4 separate regions of the Homo sapiens genome follow, and all the other regions are linked to region 3. Evidence: fine-mapped expression QTL. A gene starts in region 3. Each other region holds a variant in brackets. All regions are shown on one strand. Distances are between the middles of the regions. Region 1 overlaps TNIK (TRAF2 and NCK interacting kinase). Region 2 has its middle 25 kb from the start of TNIK. Region 3 holds the start of TNIK (TRAF2 and NCK interacting kinase). Region 4 overlaps TNIK (TRAF2 and NCK interacting kinase).

What was found. PIP is the estimated chance that this variant, and not a neighbour inherited with it, causes the effect. A credible set is the group of variants that fine-mapping cannot tell apart.
Region 1: its variant is the best candidate, but not a certain one, in a credible set for the expression of TNIK in whole blood (INTERVAL, PIP 0.65).
Region 2: its variant is the best candidate, but not a certain one, in a credible set for the expression of TNIK in whole blood (INTERVAL, PIP 0.87).
Region 4: its variant is the best candidate, but not a certain one, in a credible set for the expression of TNIK in tibial artery (GTEx, PIP 0.64).

The regions. Positions count from the first base shown.
Region 1 is chr3:171,245,699-171,251,765 of GRCh38, reverse strand. All of the region lies in intron 2 of TNIK (TRAF2 and NCK interacting kinase), which reads left to right. Among named protein-coding and RNA genes, the nearest start is that of MIR569, 140 kb to the right of the region's middle. RefSeq lists an enhancer at 588-667. The variant G/A (reference allele first, on the strand shown) is at 2,737.
Region 2 is chr3:171,482,407-171,488,473 of GRCh38, reverse strand. No RefSeq gene overlaps it. Among named protein-coding and RNA genes, the nearest start is that of TNIK, 25 kb to the right of the region's middle. RefSeq lists an enhancer at 1-11. The variant A/G (reference allele first, on the strand shown) is at 2,960.
Region 3 is chr3:171,457,121-171,463,187 of GRCh38, reverse strand. It overlaps TNIK (TRAF2 and NCK interacting kinase), which reads left to right and starts at 2,783. Exons shown (of 33, transcript NM_015028.4): 1 at 2,783-3,181. The coding sequence starts at 3,125. It overlaps LOC124906303 (a long non-coding RNA gene), which reads left to right and starts at 5,017. Exons shown (of 2, transcript XR_007096168.1): 1 at 5,017-5,242. It overlaps LOC102724479 (a long non-coding RNA gene), which reads right to left and starts at 3,970. Exons shown (of 3, transcript NR_189068.1): 1 at 3,797-3,970. RefSeq lists an enhancer at 1,582-2,082 and a silencer at 3,094-3,153.
Region 4 is chr3:171,283,328-171,289,394 of GRCh38, reverse strand. All of the region lies in intron 2 of TNIK (TRAF2 and NCK interacting kinase), which reads left to right. Among named protein-coding and RNA genes, the nearest start is that of TNIK, 170 kb to the left of the region's middle. RefSeq lists an enhancer at 3,990-4,049. The variant T/G (reference allele first, on the strand shown) is at 3,380.

The DNA.
Region 1 (6,067 bases), 210 kb after region 3:
TAATTTCAGAATGATTTAAACATCAATGGTATTAGTGCCTAGAGACAACATTCATTTTGAGTACAAGTTTTGCTAGTTTTGCTAAATAAAATTGGGTACATTATTTATATTAAGTATCAAATAGTGTATGTGTGGAATACAGGTTCTTGATAATTAGGCCCCAACTAAGTGCACATAGTCTGTGGGTCTAAGTTAGATGAAAAATGTCCTAATAAGGAGCACCTTGCAATGGCCCTTGCTCTGTGCTTCAGCCCCAGCCAACTTGCCCAGGACAGAGGAACTCATCCCAAGACTGTGGCAGGAAGGTTGATAACTATTATGGCAGTACCTGTTTCTTACTTCTGGGCCTAGCTATCAGTTCATATCATCCAAGATCATTACCCAAACATGTAGACATCATCTCAGGCCTCTAACAACACAAGTAGCCAGCCTCATTTTAGAACACACCAGAGGACTCTTGACATTCTAAATTGTCATCTTTTAATGGACTCATCCCTTCTTCCTTCTTTAGGAAGTTCTCATATCTGTGTCCCGGTCTCTGTTGTCTGTTCCTGCTGTTCTCTGCTGTCTGTATCTGCTGTTCTTCCCAGACCACAGGCAGGTTCCAACATGTGCTTTAATTTAGTCTCATCTCTCATAGGATGTTGCCCACCTTTAACCTGTCTGGTAGTTGATGTGTGTACATGATACCTTTTGTTGGGTTATTCTGGTTTTCCTTCTGCTGTTTAGATGAGAGCTTCAGTCATTCTTTGGTCACTCAAACACTTTCAGACATAATAACACACTAGGCTTGTGACCATTTGGTATTTGGGGTCTTTGAATAATGTACACTGTATTTTGACAGTGGTCTGGGACACCATCAATTGATAATTGTTGCAGCAGAGGATTGCAAGATAAAAACAAATCTCTGTCATGAAAGTCAGAAATCCCAAATGTAGAATAATAATGGAAGTTTGTAGCATTTTTAGAGCACTATATGGTTTACAAAACTTTCACATTAGCTATTTTAGTTCTTATAACGGCCTTAAGTATCATTTCTCTGATTTTAGTGTGGAAACTGAGATCTAAAGAGATCTGAATGATTTCCTCATGGTCACACAGCCAGTGAGTGACAGAACTGAAGGTATCTGACCACAGGGCCTGTGTTGTTCCCACCTCCCACAGCTGAAGGAGTTGGAGTTCCTACTTTTCTCTGAGCTAGCTGCATGGCTTTAGAGAAGTAGGATGGAAGGGGTTAATATCAGTGGACATGAATGTCTCTAATATTCTTCATTTCTAATTTTTTAAGTCTATCAGGTTTGGACACGAAATTTTTAAAGGGCATGATTTAGATTTCTAGGAATCCCTGTTTCTGAATATTTTGGGGGACTAGGGCTTAGGTTACATCTTGGAATTTTTAAGGTACTGGAGCTATTTAACCCAAATCTCACTACCACAAAGAAGCTGTCCATCCATCAACACCATTTTCCCAGGCAAACAAGACTGGGTCAGTCTCTCCAAGGCCTGTCCCATGAAAATTAGAGGGTGCTGGCATTACCAGAAAGCAAAGCTTCCATCCAGGTATGGATGAGCTACTTCTGAGAAGGGAGTAATCAGTATGGACTGAAGTAAATGGGAATTCTTCCTGAACATGTGCCATCAAGCTATAGAGCAGAAGTTGGGTGAAATTTGAAAGGCGGAGTAACAAAGGCAGAAGCATGCAGGCATCGCTAAGAGCTTGGCCTTACCAGCTGGCTGACTTTGGGACTGTGCTTTGCTCTCTTCATTAGTATAATGGGGGTGGTAGTAGCACCTACTTCACATGGGCAATGTGGGGATTAAATAGTAATCATGTAAAACCTTAGCCTGACAAGTTGATATACAGTAAAAGCAAACTATTAGTTACTAGCTCAGTAAGAAACCAGGATAGCTAGGAACAGTTAGGGAGTCTAGGTAGGTTGGGTTGGGTGGGTTGGATTGGTTCCAACTGACAGGGAAAGACGCTACTTGCCTCAAGAGTGGATGAAATAAATAGCTATGGAATAACTGTATATGCTTTCCTGCAGGCTCCTCACTTAATATATATCGTACAAGACAGTAATAGCTAATATCATAGGCAGCAAATTTGACATTTGTTCATTTGTCTTTTTGTAATGAATTATTTGAGGTGAATTATGCTGATGTGTACCACCATCATTCCATTTGAATATGTGTCTTAATGTATAATGTCCTAAGGGCTGCCCAGGACTGGTGAGCAGTAACTCACTGCAGGAGGCCCCTAATTTGCCATTTCCACACCACTGCCCCATCCCTCCAGCCCCCTTAAGTTGGCAGCAGGCCACTCTGTCTTGTCTAGTAATGGTGATGGAGAGCCTGAGTGATTCTTAATCAAAGAAAATGACAACTCCATTTACATTTGTACAGATCTGATATTCACATTTGGATGTATGCCTAAAGGTACCTGGGTTGAAAATATGTGGTGTAACATTGCTTTATCTTCCTAAATCATCCTGACACAGCCTTGGACTTAATAGGGAGTGGGACCCAGAATTATGAAATAATAGCAGACATGCCACTGGAGGCTGAAATTTATGTTTTATGAGATAAAGTGGTTCTTAACTATTTTTGTTGCCATGTTCAATAGCTAGTTACTTTTAATGTTTCTATAATAAGAAAACAGTATGCAAAGATACACTTTAACAGAATTTCATAAGCTCCTACACTATGGGTAATAACCAGAGTTCTGAAAATAAAACC[G/A]TTACTTTCACTTGCATTTTAAGTCAGATTGATAGCTTTCTTTCATTTATAACGTCGTCCTAGTCTGAAAGCAAAATCACCATTTTATTATTTCTTATTCAAAGGCTGAAAGAAAAAGGTACCAAGTAAAATGATTTTGTATGACAAGGTCAATAAGACTTGGCAGCAAAGACTTGGATTGAAACTTTAGCCTTGCCATTAACCAGCTGTGATGTTGAATAAGTCATCTAGTCCTTGTCTCACTTGTAAAATGGTATAATATTGATACTATAGTTATATTGCTATTACCTGGAATGACACCCCACTCTTATTATTCACAACCTGGACTTTTTATGACCCAGGTCTGTTTTGCTTTTAAAATCTTAAATGTACAGCATCCCAATCTTAGACCACAGCCTTTGATGCTTCCAGCCTGTACTCCCTCACACCCTACACACCTGTTCTTTGATGTTGACTAAGCCCTCGGGTCTTTTGTCAGTCTCTCAGTCCCCATGAAACTTTAATAACTTGTCTCTCCAGCCTTGGGCCTCATGATTTCTTAGTTTAATCATTTTTAGCCAACATGTACTATCTCCTTTATCCTTTGTTCTTCCATAATATCCACCTTGCAGACCCCTTCCCTAAGGTCAGTCTAGCTGTTTATTTTTCTGCATTTGGGCTGCACAGCTCAACTCAGCACTGCTTAATAATCAACTGTGTATGTACCTGCTCAGTTCCTTCTCCTGTTTTCCCTGGAATAGTTGCTCCCAATCTCCACCACTCTCCTCTCCTCCCTTCCGCTGCCCCTGCCTTCATTGTTCTCCACAGGTGACCTTCTTCTATGCCTTTTAGAAAAACTGGAGCCATTGGACAGGTATCCCTTATTGGGTAAATATCCCACAGGTCTCCCTCTGCCTTTCTTCTCAAACTCATCTTCTTCCCACATTCTTACCTTCTTTCATCCTAACTCAATGTAAAGCTTTTCCCTCTGTGTGAGAGGACTCCTCCTGCTGTTTCTGTTGTCTCCTCCCTTGCCCAGAATTGCCCCTTTCCTCCCAGCCTGCAGTCATCTTCAGCGAGACCTCAGGACTAGTTTCATCTCTTTTCAGACCAAGCAACTTTTTTCTACCCTCTTTGCCTCCACATAGTCACCTCCCATTTTTTCCTTCACTCTATACAAACTGATGTCTGTCCCTGCATTGCTGTGTAAGGTCCCAGGGGCTTCATAATTGCCAGATTGAATGAGCTCTTTTTAGTCTTTATTTCACTTGGTCTTCTGTAGCACTGGCTCTGACCATACCCTCCTTTTTGAAACTCATCACATCCTCCTTCCTGAAACTTTCTCTTTCCTTGATTTGCAGTCATATTGCTGCTTTCTTTTTTCCCACCCGCTGGTTGTTTTTTCTTGGGGTTCATTGCAAGTCCTTCTGTCTCTGTAGACTGACTTGACCTCCTGAAGCCCAGTCTTCTCCACTGGACTAATGGACACATCTGTCTGGATGTCTACCCGGCCCCCGAAAACCTTGTTATGTCCTTGACTGAAGTCACTTCCTGCCTTCTTCATGTTTTCCCGAGTCTTCTGTCTCAAAGAATGGCACTCTTACCCACCTAGATTGTACAAGCCAGAGATGTTATCTTCCTGGAGGACTTCTGTTTCTCTTTCAATTCTCCAAAACACCATCTACATGTCCTGTTGATTCTACTTATTTATTCTTTGGATCTATTCTCTTTTCACTGCCAGCCTTTGTTTCAGATCCTGACTGGATTAATCATCTCCAAATCTTGGTAGAGGACAGATGAACTGCAATCCTGGATCTGAGTGGTAGCGGGTAGGAAGGTGGGCAAGGAGTGGGGAAGATGGTGACAGGGTGACCTTTCTGGAATCCAGTCTGATCTTGTAACTCCCAAGTGTAAACTCTTTAACATCGTACTCCTTACGTGACACAGGAAGCTGTTCTTCATTGGGACTTTGTCTTCTCCAATTGCATATCCTGCTATTTTCTACACACATGTGATGTCATAGCCATACACAGACTTAAGCCCTTCCTCATACATTGGCCAGTGCCTTTACTTGTTGCTTGAAATGTCCTTCCTTGTCTTCCCCCCAGTCTTATTCTTCTGATCTTTTAGGACTGAATTAAAGTCCTACTTTTGCTACCATTTCTGTTCAGCCCAGTCTGAGTTGGTTGCTCTGTGGAACTTTTGGCCATCTGCGCATCATAATATCAACTTCTCAAGCGGCCAGCCTCCTGCAAACCTTGTATGTCCTAGACTGAAGTCACCGCCTGCCTTCTGAAAACTCCATTTTGAGAAATAATAGCTGAAAACTCAAGATCTTGAGGGAAAAACTAGTGCTAGAAAGACTAAGATTGTAAGTGAACTCTGAAAATATTTTCAATCTAATGAAAGCTCTTAGAAATATTTTTTTTGTTTGCTAAAAGGAAGCAATAAAGAAAATGCAGAAGTCAAATGAGATGCTGCCTATGTTAAATAATAGATACTTTCAACAAGTCATCTAACTTCTTTGTGCGTTTCCTTATCTGTAAAATGAGGGTAACAGCATAATGGGCTGTGATGAGTTAATGTGTGTAAAATGCTTATAACAGAACCTGACATAGTAGATATTAGCTATTAATAATAATTTTTCATTTACCAGCTACAAATCTTACAGACTATCTATTATTTCCAGCCCTCCTATTTTTGCTGAGGTGATTAGAATCTGTTTTGTTTTGAAGTATGAATAGAAAGGCATTTTTTTTTTTTTATCTGGTTCTCTACCCAAGTGTCAGTGGGATCTAATTTATTACTCATGGTTGTGGAGCCATCTTAGTTTCCACTGTTGTCTCAAAGGTGTATCTTTTTCTTTGACTTGAGAATGGCTTTGGGATTCTATCTAAGCAAATTAGGCTCAGGGAATAAGGCAGAACAATCCAACCTTTCTCACCCTCTCCTGCAGCACACTCGTCTTCCTCCCTCACTCACACATAGCTCCTTTCCCTCTATCTGAAGCTGCACCCTCCAGGCCTTCTTTGCTTTCCTTCCTGTGTGTTTTCAAGGCTGCCCTACACAAGCATCTACTTCCGTTCTTCATCTGCTCCCCTCCCCCAAGTCTGTCTGTCTGTCTGTCTGTTTCTCTCTCTTTCTCTCTCTCTTATTTCCAATAGGATTTGATGTTGATTTACTTAAATCAAAATAGTCATAATACCGAAAATGTATAACAAAAGAAAGTCATGATTATAAGTTCCATGAGGGCAAGAAATAGCATTTTATTCAGACCTGCATTTGAGGCATTCAGTAGTGAGTAAATTCTTGGACAAAGGAAAGTTACCAGAAGCAAATGAGATGATCTATA
Region 2 (6,067 bases), 25 kb before region 3:
TGTTATACATTTTCCCATAACCATTTGAAAATAAGTCACAGATAAGCTGGTAGTTCACCTCCACACACTTCACAGGCATCTCTTAAAAACAAGGACATCAACCTACATAACTACAATATTATTATATACATAAGAAGGTTTATAAATCTCCAATATTATCTAATACCTTGTCCATAGCCTTTACATGTGCAAGTGATATTAGCCTAAGTTTGGGAATGCAAGACATATTTTACTATCTAATTCTGGTCCTGTATTTGAAAGGCAAATTAATGATTATACAGTCTTTGCTGTTAGGTTGGAACAAGGAATTTGATTTCAAATGGCTTCCCTCAGCTTCAGTGTTCTGGTCAGGAATTCATGATCAAACTACAACATAGGTGCATCAAGACACTTGGTGATTTTAAAAAATAATAAAAATAAAAGTCTTTAAAACAAATGAACTGCTGAGCACACAGGTTGGCTGGCTGCATGCTTTGGTATTTTTAATCCCTAGGTATTTCCATTGTCTCCTTTCATCATTCTCTTTCTGACCTCATTTTATTTCCAGACAGCTTTGATACCTGGTTCATCATTCTGTGATCAGTTCTCATTTGACTCTTCATCTCCTTTGCCCTGCTATCTTTTACTCACAATCCTTGGCAAATTGATAGCCCTTAAAAAATTGAACCATTGCATTCTTCTCACTTTCACCAAGGATCTCAAGATTTGCTGAAGAAAAATCACCCAGATTTATGTCGTTATATATGCCTGGTCCCCATGTTTAACTGGGCTTCTACTGCCTAGAAATCTCATAGTGTTTTCCATATCTGATCTCTACAGTGGACATTTCACAGACCTGTGACCTCTGCCGACTCTCATTAGATGACCTCACCTCCTATTCACTGAGTCCACAGAAGTCATCTGATAAGAAAGTCTTCAACTTCCAACCCACAAGCTCACCTGCGTTCTCTTCTAGCTTTTCTTCCTTGTTCCTGACTTTAAAAAGTTGCCCCTGCTTTTGCCTAACACTCTTGCCTTTTGCTGTCTTAGGGAGCCAGTCTCTTTGTCATTTCTCAAGGGTTTGGTTTTCTCGTTGAATATTCTTCCTCTCTTCTGTTTCTCTAATCATTTCCTGACTACTTGTCTATCTAAACATAGTTAAGTCTCAATCTTTCTTGACCTCATGACAACCCTCAACTATGTCCTGATTTCTTCCATTTGCTTAACAACCAAGCCCCTTCAGAATGTTTCTGAAGGAAAGGTTCATGGACTTCATCAGATTATCACCCCTTTACTCCCAAGAAAGACTACAAACCTCTTCTCTACACGCTCTTCCTGGGAAATCTTGTCCACTCTCATGGCTTCAGTTACCCTCTATATGCCACTGGCTCCTGATACCTCTTCTGAGTTTTCCTTTTTCTGGATTTCCAACTGCACAGACACCAAACTCGGCAGGTTCCAAGATAAACCTGTTACTTTCCTCCACCCTCAAACAAGTTCCTACTTGATTCGTATCTTAGTAGGTGACACAGCCCCTTCTCCATTGCCCAAAGCTAAGACCTCGAGGCATCCTAGATAGTGCTTACCCTTCTTCTCTATATCCAATCAGAACTAAGCATCACAAAAGTTCTACTTTTTAGATGTGTCTCAGATCCACAGGCTTTATCCCTCTGGTGACCACTCCTGTCCAGATGGCCTGGGAGACTATGACAGCCTCATAATCAACCTCTCCGCTTCCAGTCTTGCTCCTCTCTGGTGCCTTTAGCATGAGGCAAACACCTTAATCTTTTTAATGTGTAAACCTAATGATTTCATTGGCTTAAACCCCATTAGTGGTTTGCTGTTGCCCTTAGGATAAGTCCAAACTCTAATGTGCTCAACTTGTCTCTTTATTACTTGCCTACCTCTCCAGATTCATCCTGAGCCCTTTATCCCAGCACTATCCACTCACAGACATAATGTTCCAAATATAATGGACTTACTTCAAGGCCTCAAATGAGCCACAGAGTCCATCACTTTTCAAACATTGCATATTCTGTTGTCTCCACCTGCAAATTCAAGTAAGCCACCAATTGGAGATTACCTGAGACATATTCCTTTGGCAACAGTTGCATATTATACACTATGACAGGCCAAAGCCACCATATAAGTAATAAAATTCCTTATGGTTTATATGGTACTTCATTTGTTGTAGGAGTAATAAATATTCACCATAGAAAATTTAGAAAAAGCAGATATGCATGTAGTTTGCATATATATGTGTATATGTTTATAATGTGCATATATAATATATATACATAAATTTTAAAAATAGGATCACCCTACACAGATTGTTTTTAAAATACAAACACATTTATTTTTGTGCCGAAAATTTCAAGTAAATAATTTAATAGCTCATCTAATTATATGCCCATGAAAATTAGAATAGTCATAAATTACAAGAAATTTCCATGATTTCACATGAGAACTGTTTTTTCTTTTCACCTTATTAAGAACTACCTTCGTCAACCTTCCAGCTACCTTTTGTTTTATAGTGATAAAATATACATAACATAAAATTTACAAGTTTAACCTTTTCTAAATGTACAACTCTGGCTGGGTGTGGTGGTTCATACCTGTAATGCCAGCGCTTTGGGGGGCCAAGGTGGGGGGATTGCTTGGGCCCAGGAGTTTGAGACTAGCCTGGGCAACATGGTGAAACCTTGTCTCTACAAAGAATACAAAAATTAGCTGGGCTTGTGCTGATAGTCCCAGTTACTTGGGAGGCTGAGGTGGGAGGATTGCTTGAGCCCAGGAGAAAGAAGCTGCAGTGAGCTGTGCTTGTGCCACTGCACTCCAGGCTGGTCAACAGAGCAAGACTCTGTCTCAAAAAAAAAAAATTTTTTTTGTGGCATTAAGTACATTCACAATGTTGTACAACCACCACTACTATTCATTTCCAGAACTTTTTCATCAAACAGAAACTCTGTATCCATTAAAT[A/G]ACTCCTCATGCCCTTCTCTACCCCACTCCTGGTAATCTCTACTTTCACATAAGTGTTTTATAATTTGTTTTTTTCCACTTAATTTCCAACACCTTTAACTATTCTCCAACATAATTCTTAATGGTTGCAAAGATTATAATGATTATGTCATAATTTAACTGGCCCCTCATATTTAAATACTTAAGTCCAGTTCTAATTTTTCAATCTCAAAAACAACACTACACTGAACTTCCTTGCCTTATTGTTTCTGAAGAAGTTTTTATCTCTCAAACCCTGTGAGAATTCAAAATTGATCATGCTATCTCCACATTAAAGATGAGAAGACGGAGCTCAAGTAGATTATGCTTTGTCTAGTGTCTCCATACGAGGAAGGGCAGAACTGGAACTAGAACCCAGGACTTCTAACTTGATACCACTGCTCTTCTATCCTGCCTCAGCCAGTCTCATTATTTCTCAATTTGGCAGAAGATGGCAATTAGGACAGAACAGCGGATTGGGGAATAACAAACGTCTGTGGAGCTGTGGAGAGATGGCCACACAAAGCTGCCAAGTCTGGGTTAAGTGGCATGATGGCTGACTTAAGATAGAGGAAGGAGACTGGGTGCGGTAGCTCACACCGGTAATTCCAAGGCTTTAGGAGGCCAGGGCAGGAGAATTGCTTGAGGACAAGAGTTCAAGATCGGCCTAGGCAACACAGTGAGACTTTATCTCTACCAAAAACAAACAAACAAAAAAATTAGCTGGGTGTGGTGGTGACCTCCTTTAGTTCTAGGTACTTGGGAGGCTTAGGTGGGAAGATTGCTTGAGTCCAGGAGTTTGAGTTTACAGTGAACTATATCACACCACTGCACCCCAGCCTGAGCAACAGAGCAAGACTCTGTCTATAAAGAAAAAAAAAGAAGATAGAGGCAAGGGACTTGTGAAATGTTCAAGGTCTACAAACCAAACTGGGATATCACAAGTCAAAAAAGAAGAGAGTGTAAACAAGCTCTGAAAGCTGCCAACAGCTAGGACCTAGGGATTGGCACCGCTCTATCGCTGGTCCCCAAAACACCCTTCGTGGGAAGAACTTGCTAGTATGGAATTCTCAGCCTCTGGGTTCCCACCATGTGCTGTGTGTCTATTTAAAAAATAATACAGTATAATAATCAGACTTGGGGAACTGTTTTGAACAAGTCGAATGGAACACACACACATAAATATTAAGTAGACTAGTTAAAACTCCAGTCTTCTTTGCTTTTTGGCAAAAATAATATAATCTTGGTGGAGAAAACACTAGTATTAAAAGCAGATTGTCTTTGACCTTAAGACAACATTTATTATTATCTTACAAATACAATTTATTTCATAGGAAAAAATCTTTAAAACATCAGGTCCATGGTGGAAAAATAGCAAAAGGGATTCTTTAAAGTAAATTGTTTGCAAATTTTCAATCAATTAATGCTGCCTTTACTCATTTATCCATTTTTCATTTTCATAATTTTACATAATTTGGGTTTCCCTGAAAGCAGATACTGAGATAAGAACTTTTGAGTGGGTAGCTTATTTTTGAGGTGATCCTAGGAAGCAGAAATGTGGGAGCTGGGAAGTTGAGACAAAGAAAAGAGGAAAGCCAATAAAGTGGTTTTTAAGGAGTGGGTTTCCACTGTGAGCAACTGTGGCTTATGTCTGCTGGGCATTGCTAAGGAACTGAGTTGACCATGCTCCAGAATTGTCCCATCAAGGGATGAGAGGCTACAGTGTTTATCCATCAACTTCTAAACCTTATTGACTGAAGGTTCCCTTTGGGGGTCAGTATTAAAGCTACCCTCCTCTCTTCTTTCTCTTGCACTTTTGGGCTCTAGGATCCAGATGAGCAGCCTTCTATGGCTGTGGAGAAAGCCCTGAGGCCAAAAGCAAACAAGCGCCAGGAGTGTGCCCTCAAGGTGTGCACAGGAAGTGTATGGAATGTGCATTGAAGTTGCTCTAAAGTCAGGTGGGCTGAGGCAGGTGGTTGAGAGACCATCAGTGTCTGTACGTACTTCTTTTGTACTTAAAACCTTCTCCATATAAAAACAAAACAAATAACACATCAAGCACACACACACACACACACACACACACACACACAAACACACACACACACACACACACAAATCTGCAGCAGGAGCAAAGCCTTTCCTTTGGCTACTACAGAAAAGCAAATTAGTATTTTAAATATTATATTAAGTTTAGAATGTGAATTACAGAGGAGAGAAACATTTATCTAGACAATTCTTCATTTGGCATCCACTAAAATTTAGGGATTGTCCTTTTCACACAAAGAACAATAATATAAAATTAGATGGCACTCTCAACATCATTAGTCATTAGGGAAATGCAAATCAAAACCACAGTGTGATACCACTTCATATTCACTCGAATGGCTATAATCAAAAAGATGGATGATAACAAGTGTTGGTAAGAATATGGGGAAACTGGAACCCTCATGTATTGCTGGTAGGAATGCAAAACAGTACAGCCACTTTAGTAAAAAGGTTGGCAGTTTCTTAAAAAGTTAAAGTTCCCATATGACCCAGCAATTCCACTCTGAGTAAGAAGATTGTATACATATCTTTATATAAAAACTTTTAACATAAATGTTTATAGCAATGTTATTCATAATAGGCAGAAAGTAAAAACAACTCGAATGTCCATCATCTGATTAATGGATAAACAAAATGTGATAAATCTGTACAATAGAATATTATTCAGCCACAAAAGGATTGAAGTACTGATACATGCTGTGACATGGATGGATCTTGAAAACATAATGTTAAGTGAAAGAAGCCAGTCACAAAAGGTCACATATTATATGATTCTATTTATATGAAATGCTCAGAATAGGCAAATAATCTTTTTTTTTTTTTTTTTTGAGACAGAGTCTCACTCTGTTGCCCAGGCTGGAGTGCAGTGACGCGATCTTGGCTCACTGCAACCTCCACTTCCCAGGTTCAAGTGATTCTCCTTAGGCAAATTCATAATCTTATGCATAAACATTCTGTACTTGGAGACAGAAAATAGATTAGTGGTTGCCTGGGGCTAGGAGTGGGAATGGGTTTTAGGATAAGACATCCCCAGATTCAACA
Region 3 (6,067 bases):
ACTCAAACTATCCTCCCAACCTGTCCTCCCAAAATGTTGGCATCACAGGTGTGAGCCACCACCGTGCCTGGCAGAAATCTTTAGCAAAAAAATTAGGTATCATTGTTGGAGTCTCCTTTTCCTCTTCCTCTTTTCTCATTATCCTGAAGTTAATCTGTATCCTTACTGCCTGTATCCATGCTTTATATAGTTTACTACATATTTATACATATGTAAACAGCATAGTGTATTATTCGGCAGGTTTTCAAACTGCACATAAATGGTGTCAGTTCTCTTAATCCTTCAGATTACATCAAGAAAAAAATCTCAAGTCTTGAATGTTTTTCCTGGTATTTGCTATTCTCTCTTTTAACAAACTAAGAGTAGGCCTTAGGCTAGAAGCCCAGAGCAGGAATTGATGGCTAGCTAGAATTTAATAATACTTCTTTATTTTCCATTATATTTATTTTAATGGTTTCCTCCCCCCTTTTTTTTTCAAAGCAAGTGTTGTTGGCTTTCCATTTAGAGTAGTGATTTATGTTTTCTTTTATATTAAGTGTAAGAAAAAAGTGTTGATTTAAAGAAAAATGTTAAGTAAGTGGTAAAATAGTACAGGCAATACAGAGACATAGGAAAAAATTAGGAAATTTATACTGGAATAGCTGAAATTTGATACACACTTGACCAAAAGGAAAAAGTTCAAGTTCCTCCTTCTCACCTTCCTTTACCAGTTGGAGGTCCCTTTGATACTGCAATCTCTCCTTTTATGGTATTTCCTGCAGCCCACACCCCTGCCTTCCCCTGGCTGTCTCATCAACTTCTCAGGCTCTTAGGAAGCCCTCCTCCATTTAGCACCTGGCATCATACTGCATCTATAACTTTCTCATCTAAAACTAAACTAAATCTGAATGCCAACTTGGCACCCTCGTGGCCCAAACAGCTCACTAATGTCAAAAAAGTTGATCTGTTTGTGATGTTTCAAATATAATCATGAGTATAAAACGAAGGCTTTCCATGGAAAAAATATTTAACTCATATTTCCTTATGTTTGCAGTTTTAAAAAAATAGTTGTTTATAGATCTTAATACTTGATCTTAAATTATCTTCTTTCAACCCTGAGACAATACATTAACCTGTTGTCTAGATGAACGGTAAAAAAACAGGAACACAGAAGAGAAAAAAACAAAGACAATGATGGGAAATAATCTGTTTTTTTTTTTTCATTTCGACGTGGTGGCTTACTGCACGTTACTTACTATGTCGAACCAGATGATTTTAGTAAAAAATGAGTTTAGTAATTTAGTATAACACGTTCAAATGTTTACATACAACGTTTACAGGCAAAAGCTACCAAACTGTTGTGGCCATTGAGATGTTGGAACAATTTTCAAGTTTCATGGTGCATGATCCACAATGCATATGAATACATACAATATCAGTAACAAAAACAGTACAATGTACACCAAAGGTTGTTTCAAAGTCCTCTAATGTCTGCAGTCATGATGAACTAACTGCACTGGCTTTCATTCATTCATTCATAAGACTTATTTTGAAGCTGATCTTCATACTGCATGATTAAGAAACCATCAGTGCAGTGGTCAGAATTACATTCTGCTGTTAACAGAGGAGCAAAGAATGCTTTCAAAGCTACTGCTGTATTTGGAAAAAAGTTCAGTTTTAGTGTTTTCTTTCTAGGTATTTTGCATGGCTAAGGCGGGAGAAGAAGGGCTGCGCGGGGATTGGGGGAAGCGACTTCCCACTCTTGATTACAGAAGGAGAATCATGTATACCACTGTAAAACATCCAACCTTTAAATGAGAAAGTGAGTGAAGTGAAATCGCTCTCACGTACACATCTTCCGCGTTACTTCTTATCCGCCAGCCAAACTTTCTCCATCAATCTGGGTAGGTCTGCCACGAAAACGCAGCCTGAAAGAAATGCTGAGTCCTGAGGCGGCGTGTGTTGCCTCACCCAGTGTTGGCTTTGGAGTTACCTGAAGCCTTCTAGCTACTGCACCCAGAGAGCAAGCTTCTCGTTTCAACTCGGTTGTTTCCGTGGGGAATTGCGGCACGAGCAAGTCCTGGGTGTGGCGATGCCAAGAGAGCGCTCAGATCTCCCATCTTTCCCGCTTCTGGCAAACCTTCCCAGCCCCGAATCGGCGAGTGACCAGCACCCGGGATCAGCCGTCCGGCATTCCGGGGACCGCGGGTGGACCCGACCCCGCCGCAGCTGCAAACTGCCGAAGCGCCCAGCTGGGTGCACTGTGCGTGTGCGCTTCTTCCCTACTCTTTCCGCGCCTGGAGGCGGATCCCCTTCCTTGCACACAAGTCCTTATATGCACCGGTTGCACCAGCCCGCGTTACTCCGGCCCCACAAATAATTAATGGGGGAGGGAGGGTGTCGCTTTTTTTTCCTCCGGCTTTTTCTCAGCGCGAGAGCATTTGAACCGAGGAGAAACCCCAAGACGCGACTGAAGGGCCATTTTGCTGCAGTGCACGAATTGGCCACACAAAAATAGAGCTTGGGTCCCTATGATAACAAGTCAAGGTTCAGGAACAGCCCCTTCGGGTTCGGCCCGAGGAGCCCGCAAAAGCCTGGGCGGAAAGGGTGCGCGCCCCTCCCCCCTCCACGCTGGTGCAGAGGGACCGGGTCAGGAAGCGCGGCCTCTCCCCAGTCCAAGACCACGCCTCCTCCGCCTCCCCACTCCCCCTTCACTCCTCCCAGGAAGCGGTGATAGACAGTTCTGCGTGGTTCTCCACCCCCACCCTCCCCCTGCTGAGTGGAGGAGTTGATGTGTCTCATTATAACAGCCAATGCAGCCGCCATCCACGCACAAGCAAAGAAGCATGTCCCATTTAAATACACCCACGCAGCCCCAGCGCCCTTAGCCGATCGGGGCGCTCAGCCCACACGCACCGCTGCTCGGGGCTTGGAGATCCGCGCAGGCTGGGCTCCCGGACCCGGCGGACCGACGCGCGGAGGATCGGGATCCGGCGCTGTGGGGCTGGGGTGGGCGGGGGAGGCTGGGCCCGGGGCCTCTGGCGCGACACCCGCATGAGGACGCGAGTGAAATAGACCAAGGTGGAATTTCCAAGGGAAAAGCTTCGGGGTGGTTTTGGTCCATTTCTCCAGCGAAGAAGTAGACATGGCGAGCGACTCCCCGGCTCGAAGCCTGGATGAAATAGATCTCTCGGCTCTGAGGGTGAGCAGGACGTTTTCTGGTTTCTTTCCAGTGGTTTGGGTTAGGGTGAATGGGCTCGGTGCGTGGACTGGGGGCTGGGGCTGGGGCAGGGGGACAGCAGCGGGAGAATGCGTCGGGGAGGGAACCTGGATTCCCGTTTTGATTCGGGGTTGCTGAGGTGCTCCTGGCTGAGCCCCTACGGCAGGGGCTGTGCGGTACGTGTCTTCCTCTGGCCGTGGCTTAGGCTCTCCCGAGGGCTCGTAGAGCTTATGCCAGTTTCATCTTATACCGGTGTAAGAGCATTAAAATGAAAGGCGTGTGTGCGTGTGTGTGTGTGTGTGTGTGTGTGTGTACACGCCCCGGGCAGTTGTCTGGTGCCAAGGCGCGAGACCCGACTGTCCCTTCTGCAAAAAGAATGCCAGCGTGAATAAAGGCACTGGCCCCTCACGTTTTCCAGCTACCTGCAAGATGACATTGTGAGGCTGGCTGTCCCCGCGAAGCCGAACCTGCCGCTCCAAGGGGGCAGTTATTGCTATGCTGGTCTTGTAGATGGCAACTGCCTCCCCCTCCCCCTTTTCTACCTCCCGCGCCCGGGCGCCCTCTCAGCGCTCCCTTAAATGCCAGTCTGCCACTCACCTTTATTTATGGCTTTAACTCAGCCCTGCCTGTTCTTTCTGACTTTGTGGCTGTAACGTTTCAGTTTTATGGCTGAACTTAAGCAGGTGAAAGGGATGTGTTTTCTGCTTTTCCTCAATCAGACCGGAACTCCCTGGAGTGTGTGCGAGTGTGTGTGTGTGTGTGTCTGTGTGTGTTTTCCCCGTGTCTGTGGCCAGTCCTTTGTAGAGCACCTCCCTCCCCCCAGCCCCACTGGTTTGCGTTTACCTTCACGTGAATTACCTCAGACGCCGTTTCATTGTATTGACTAAGACATCACTGATATAGAATCCATTTTGCTGTTGTTTTGAGATCAGAATACCAGGAATCCAAGTGCTGCTTCGACGCTTCCCCACCCCCAACTCCCGATCCCAACACACTCCTTTGGGGAAGGGGGCAGAGCTTTCTTGCCATTTTAATTAGATGCTGCCTGCCTGGAAGGGGGTGAGGGGTGGGGATGGTGGCAGCAGCGGGTGTCTGAGAAGGATTGGACACCAATTTAAGGACTGCTTCTTCCTCTCCCGAACCAAAAATAAAATTAAAAAGAAAGCGAGTGCATATACTTGATGTATGGAGGGTGGATGAGAAGGAATTCATGGTGGCTCTCTACAGGGAGACACCAGGATGGATGAAGCATGGAAGTTCACACGCCCTCCTGAGGAATACATTGTTAGATTGATGCTGAATCTTGGGGCCATTTACCTGGATTCCTAGTACTTCTGACATTGCCGCTATCTGCACTGATATATTAAAGTGCTACCTTTGTGATCAAAGTGGTACTTTCTCTTTGGTCTCCTTAATTAAACCTTTTCCTCCACATCTCTTTGAATAAGTCTTTCTCTCTTCGTCTTAATCTGTTGGGCTAAGAGATGAGGTTTCAGCAAGGCAAGTAAGGAGTTGAGAAGAAACAGAGATGCCGTTTGAAATGGGCTGTTCTGATAGTTGGGCAGCCAAAGCTCATTCATGCATTATTACAGGAAGCTGTCTATTTCCCTGGAGTGGAAATGCCACATCAAGAACCGGCTGCCCCCTGCGCAGCGGGGTGGGGTTGGTAACAGGGTGGGTGCATTGGCCAGGTCTGTGGCTTCCTGCTTTACCGACTGTGTGTGTTCATTTGCCCTACTTTCTACGCTGGGAGTTGCTGCCGGCGAGTTAATCAGGTGGATGGATGGCCCCGACTGGGGGTGGGGTGCTGCGAATCGGTCGGAGGTCGGGGTGGGGGGCGGGAAGTGGCAAAGGGGGAAGGGGTCTGAACAATGCGCAGGGCTTGCGGTGATTTCCCTGGGCCGGAATCTCGACCTTGCTCCTCTACTGGAAAGCAGTCTGATGTGATTTTAAGTTGGGCCGGGACTTGTCCCTTATGGGCTTTTTCCTCGGGAAGGTTTTCTGAGATACCAAGCACGGAGCCTGCAGGCAGGGGAGCAACCGGTGAGGGCCCACTGGGCGGACGACTGCGGTTCACACTTGGGATGTGCTTTCTTGTGATCTGTATTTTGAAAATATATCTTTGCACAATTCACTGAAATTGCTCTTTGTGGCCTGGGCTATCAGCTTAGGGCTCTGCTTCTGTTTTTCTGCCTGCTGGGAGGTGTGGAAACAGAGAGGGCAACAGCTAGCTTGGGGACCAGGAACTGCTGGCTAGAAGACTTAGATGCAGATGTGGAGACAGTTATATCCTGGAGGGCCAGGGTCTTTGACCAGTCTTGTGGGTGAGGTGTGTCTGCTGGAGTGGGTCCAAAGGCCACATAGGTAATCTCCACAAATCAGAGGGCAGATCATCTCCACCTTGCCACATTTGGAGAGGTGGCCTCATCTAGATGAGATGTCTCATTTGTTCCTAAGCCCTTGGTAAAGTCTGCCTGCTGAGCCCCTCCTGGGGAATGCCTGACCCCTGAAATGCAGCCAAGGTCAGTGGCTTCTGGGAGAATTTGCTGCAGACTTACCAGTCCCTCGCTGTTTCGGTGGCTCTTTAATGTACACAGTCAATGCTCTTTTTGTAAACCCTGGGCTCAAAGCATTAAAAGCAGATCCTGTCTAGAGAGGCCTTTATCCTTCTCACTTTGGGGGCTTATTGTTCTCAGCCAGTGATTCCAGACCGGACCCAGTCTAAATTTTCCCCAAATAGCAACAATGCATAATTTAAACCAGAGCAACCAATGACAGCACTGATCATTTAAATTATGCAAGATTTGCATGGTTTAAAAGTGAGTGAAGCAGGATCTTCTTTGGTTAGAAAATAGGTACTTTGAATCC
Region 4 (6,067 bases), 170 kb after region 3:
AACTGGAAAGATGAAGAGTTTTTAAGACCTTATTAAAACCAAACTCCAATTTAACTTAGAACCATAGCCTTTTAAAGGTATGATAGAATCTTAGAGAACATAATTCTCATATTCTCTTTTTACAGGTTCTTTCAAAGGCCAAGAGAGGTTGAATATCTACTTTAGAGGCAGGACACACAATTAGTCTTTGCAGAACCAGGTGTTCTAACTTCCAATTTGGGACATTCACCATTTTTTCATTCTTACCCCCACTTCATCTACTTCTTGAGCTAATGAGCTATTTGTGAAGCTTCCCTTATGCCTCTTGAACTGCTTCTGCTGCTCTCGGAAGTGTGCTTAGAATGAGAACATATACATTATAATTTAAATTATTGGATCAGTTGAACAATTCGTCCCTGCAGGTCAAATTCTTCAATTGTGATCAATCCCTATGAGTCAAATTCAAATTTAATTTTTTAAATGTTTTTTTTCAAAAAGATTTCATTTCATTCTACTTCTCCAAATAGATAAATGTTTATTTCAAGAAACACTGCCAAATATTGTTAGTGCTTCAAATCTGCCAGCCATTGACTTTTTTTTTTTTTTTTGAGATGGAGTCTTGCTCTGTCATCCACGCTGGAGTGCAGTGGTGCAATCTCAGCTCACTGCAACCTCCACCTCCCACGTTCAAGTAATTCTCCTGCCTCAGCCTCTCAAGTAGCTGGGACTACAGGCACACACCACCACACCAGGCTAATTTTTTGTATTTTTAGTAGAGACGGGGTTTTACCATGTTAGCCAGGATGGTCTTGATCTCCTGACCTTGTGATCTGCCCTCCCCAGCCTCCCAAAATGCTGGGATTACAGGCGTGAGCCACCGCACTCGGCCAGCCATTGACTTCTTGAAGCAGCATAATTTGTTGTCCGTGGCTCCTGAATGTTCCTCATGCCACCAGCCCTTATGGTGGATAGTACAACACCAATGTATTCCTTGGAAATCTGGGATCATCTGGAAAGTTCGTTTCTGTGGGTCAGACTTTTAATTGATTGTTCAACTGATCATTCCACCCAAATATTTTCTTTTTTTTTTTTTTTAAATTATACTTTAAGTTTTAGGGTACATGTGCACATTGTGCAGGTTAGTTACATATGTATACATGTGCCATGCTGGTGCGCTGCACCCACTAACTCGTCATCTAGCATTAGGTATATCTCCCAATGCTATCCCTCCCCCCTCCCCCCTCCCCACCACAGTCCCCAGAGTGTGATATTCCCCTTCCTGTGTCCATGTGATCTCATTGTTCAATTCCCACCTATGAGTGAGAATATGTGGTGTTTGGTTTTTTGTTCTTGCAATAGTTTACTGAGAATGATGGTTTCCAATTTCATCCATGTCCCTACAAAGGACATGAACTCATCATTTTTTATGGCTGCATAGTATTCCATGGCGTATATGTGCCACATTTTCTTGATCCAGACTATCATTGTTGGACATTTGGGTTGGTTCCAAGTCTTTGCTATTGTGAATAATGCCGCAATAAACATACGTGTGCATGTGTCTTTATAGCAGCATCCTGTTTTGAAATGACTAGCCTGGTTCTACCATTCACTTCAAGCATCATTTGAACAATTTGGCCCTTTATATATCAAATAAATGTAAAGGAAGGAGTTCACTGACTTTGATGATCTTAAATAGTTTTGTCAGTACTGTAAATACTGATCTCGAATAAAATACTAAATGAAATTCAAGACCTTAGTTGACCTGCTATTGCACTAGATTTGTTTGGAATCAAAACTTATAGTCTTTTAAAGCCATATCACTGTAAAATAGAGTAAAATCTCCAGTAAAGTTCTAGATTATTCATAACACATAGTGGAAATTGTTAGGAGACTTCCATGCCATTACTCCAAGTTAAAGCCAACATTCTAAGTTAAAGCCAAGTATCCTGTTGGAATCCTGTTGGATTCAGGTTGTGCACAGCTGGGGTGACCTTCTTAAATGTTCTTATTCTAGAGTTTGCATTAAAAGCAAAGGAAAAGCTGCAAAAATAGTTGATTAGATACATCTGAGTCCACATTTTAGATATATTGAATTTGAAAAGAATCAATGATAAAAATAGGACTTGACAACATAACTAATAGTTGAAAATTTTCTTAACAATGAAAATGAGAATTTTTGTTCAATTTTGAGGGTTTTTTTTGTTGTTTCTGTTTTTGTTTTGTTTTGAGTTTTTCAGTTGGCCTATGGGAAGAAATATTTGCAGCAGCATATAATACCCAGAATAATCTTGAACTTGCCCTGAGGACTGTAGGGAAAACCCCTACTTGCCTTAGCATGTTCTTGGAAACAATACCACAAAGTGATTTATGTTTTTCTATGAGAACAACATTGTGAAAGCAGCATCTTTTCTGACCAAAGACTTGGCATCATATAAACCATCTTACCAACAGTACGCCATAAAAACAGATATGAATACAAAAAGTAAAATTCTAGCATCATAAACCTAAGTTAAAGAAGGTTTAAATTGCTGTAGCAATTGATCATTACAAGAGGACTCCCTGACTATAACAGCACACAGAGCTCTTCAAACTACAACATTGTGTCATAAATGAGATTGTGTAAATAGAAGTACCTTGCATAACCCTGGCTGGTAACTGGTATCAGGTAATGTTGATTGAGAACAAATATTAAATATCTGTTTGCTCTCCAAGGTGACATTTCTGCCTCTAAAGTTTTATGTTTCAATTTACAATGTCTACTTCTTGTTTGTTTGTTTTCTTGAGACAGAGTCTTGCTCTGTTGCCCAAGCTGGAGTGCAGGGGCATAATCTCAGTTCACTGCAACCTCTGCATCCTGGGTTCAAGTGATTCTTGTGCCTCAGCTTCCCCAGTAGCTGAGATTACAGGTGTGCATCAACACACCCAGCTAATTTTTGTATTTTTAGTAGAGATGGCGTTTCACCATGTTGCCCAGGCTGTACAATATATACTCTTATATTCTTAGACTATGAAAAATGACTTAAATTGTGGAGAAGTATGGGAAGACCTTCTTCTTCCAGAGATACCTGAATAGATCCTTCCCTATTGAATTTCCATGTAACGAGTCAGGGCATTCATGAATTGTCCTATTTTCAGTTAGTTTTCTAAGTACTATAGTAGGGACTCCTCAGATATCTGTTACAGTGGTGGATGAAGAAGGAGGAGAAGGAGAAGTTTTTAAAGTATAATAGCTAACCTAATCTTTTGTCTCTTCCACCATCTTTAGTTAATTCAGATGTTCTCCTTCAATGGCTCATCATCAGACATATACCCCTCTCCCCTCTCTCCCCAGCAAAGGCTAACCAGGAAATATGGAATAGTATTTATTTTGCCATAGGGTGTACTAGACATCTCCCAAGAA[T/G]GCTAAGATAGGATAAGGCTGTATCCTCCTGATCCTTCAGGATGAGCAGGCCAAACCATCAAATGATCAAATTCCAGAATAGCCAATTTGCCCCGAAGTGATTTTGGTAAAGAATCCATTTGGAATAGTATTTCTCAACTCTCCGACTACATCAGAATCACCAAGGCCTGGGGCCTGCCCCAGACACTGATCCAGTTGTTCTGTGGCGAGATGGCAGTTAAAAAAACACACAAGAACTTTCAAGTGATTGTAATATACAGCCAGAGTTGAGAACAATTGGGCCAGAGCTTTCTTATCTGCCAAATAATGGAAGGCAGAATGGAGGAATAGGGGTTAATTTTATTAACATCTAATAAATTGATTTAAAATGAAAATGGGTGCCTCTTAATAATAATAATACTGATTTGGTGTTTATCATCTTACAGGCACTGTACACACATGAACACATTTAAACTGTGCCACAGCCTTCACTGTATAGGTGAGAAAACAGTCCTGAGTGTCAATTAACTTAGTCATAACAATATAGCTGCTGGCATTAGGATCCAGCTCTACTTCGGAAAAGCTCATCAGTTTCCACTCTACCACACCACCTCTACACTTTTACTTTCTCATCTACGTTTTTCTTTGAGGAGATGCAGTTAAAGTCAGGCAAGCTAACATATATTACCACTGATAACAAATTCAGCAGCCTAAGTATTGCTGAGGAATTTAAGTGGCTGATGTGTTTGTTCCAGTCTTGGGTAGAAATGATACATTATCAACAATTTATTTATTTATTAACAATTTATAAAGAAAACAGTTTTATCAAAAAATTATCAGCTTGAATTTTATGAATGAAGACAGATGATTCCTGTCCATGGAAAATAAATAGTCTGTATCCTTTAAATAATTTAAGGCACATTTCTTGCTAATATTCTGGGTCCACCTATGTCTTGCATTGAAAAAGTATTTACCTAATATCTTAAAGCAGGGCTATGATAACTTAGTTCTCAAGGAAAGAAGGTTTTAAAAATAATTTTCTCTGCTCTCCATTTCTCTTACTGTAAGCATGTGGCAAAGTCTTGGCATCTGCTCAGAATAAATTTTCTGCTTCCTTTCTGTCTTTTAGTCAGCGCACGCTTTCTCTGAGTTCTCCCCCTTACTCCTTCCCTGCTTTAGTAATCTACAGGAAACCAGACCTTACTAATTTGAGTGCTTGCTCTTAGAATTACTTATTACTGTATTAATACATATTTGCTAGAGTTTGTGGAGGATTTGTATTGCTCTAGGTGCTAATAAAAATGTGTAAAAGACAGGCCCCTTAAATAATGTGCAATTTTGAGGGAAACAACAAAGGCAAAAGGATTTCTTTGGGACTGGCTATTTGCAATAAATTGCTCATTTGATTTTATTTTTTATTTTTTTTTTAGCATGCAGGAGGTTTATTAAGAAATGCAATGACGGCAGGATTGGCCAGAGAGAGAAGTCAAGACATGATGCATTCTCAATGGAATGCCTCAGCTGACCATGTGGGGAGTTCTAAAGACGGACTGATGATTCAGAGTGCCCCATGTTGATTTATCAGTAATTTGTTTTGAGCTGCCCTGGAAAGCGGGTGTGAAGTTGGTTGAGAAGGCCCCAGATTTCTCATTTTAAAATGCTGCATGTGAGAGGACATTTTTCACAAAGAACTACTAAATTAAAAAATTGGGGAATAGAACCCTACTATGAACGGAGTGTGTTTCTTCTATTCAGGCACATATTTTTGCCTAATATCCAGATGCTGTTTCCAAAGCTATTTTTTCATGAAATTGTGTTGCTCTAGAATGCTCAATGGTTCTCAAATTTTAGTGTGCATCAGAATCTTAACAATGAGGGGCTAAGACACAAATTCCTGCCCTCCTCCCTGCCGCCCCCCTCCAGAGTTTCAGATTCATAGGTCTCGGTTGGGTCTGAGAATTTGCATTCCCAAGCAAGTTAACAGGTGATGCTGATGTTTCTCAGGGGATAACGGGCAAATGGTGAAACCCAGAAAGTTTTGTTTCTAGATATGAGATCCCATTGTCTTTGCCAATGAAGCTGTGCTGTAACTCCATCTTAACAAGTAACCCCAAATTATACCCACCTGAAAGACCTTTGTGGGTTGTGGAAAACCTGGAAGATGGCTGAGAGACAGTACCCTCGAAGTAGTTCTGAGGAGATTGTTCTGCTTGTATTCCCATGCAGCGCCATCACTGCCTGACTTCCTTATGTGTGTCTGATTTGAGGCAGTTCTCTAGGAACCAGTTCCTGGTGCTGCAGTGCCACTGGCAGCTTCCCAGGGCTTCCAGAACCCTAGTGGCATGGTGGGAACTCCTGTTCCTCACCCGACCTCTCCACAGCCCTGGACCTGTAAGGTTTCTTCCAGGCTACATGGAATTAGATTTCCACTTTTCCTTGGTTCACAGGGGGCAGGAGCCAGGTTGGAACGGCTGCCAAGGAGACTGTCTTTTTTCAGAGCCCTTAACTGGCAGTCAGCAAGACCGAACTCCTCTGCTCCTTGGTGAATGGTGATGCTGATTATTTGGAAGCTTTAGCACCAAAGTTTGAAATTCCCCTAAGTGAATGGTTTTGGCGATCCCCTTCCTTTAGTTATACTATTGGCTTTCTCTCATGTTCATTTAGGTTGCCAAATCTTCTGTATAATCCTCATCCCCCATCAAAAGAGAA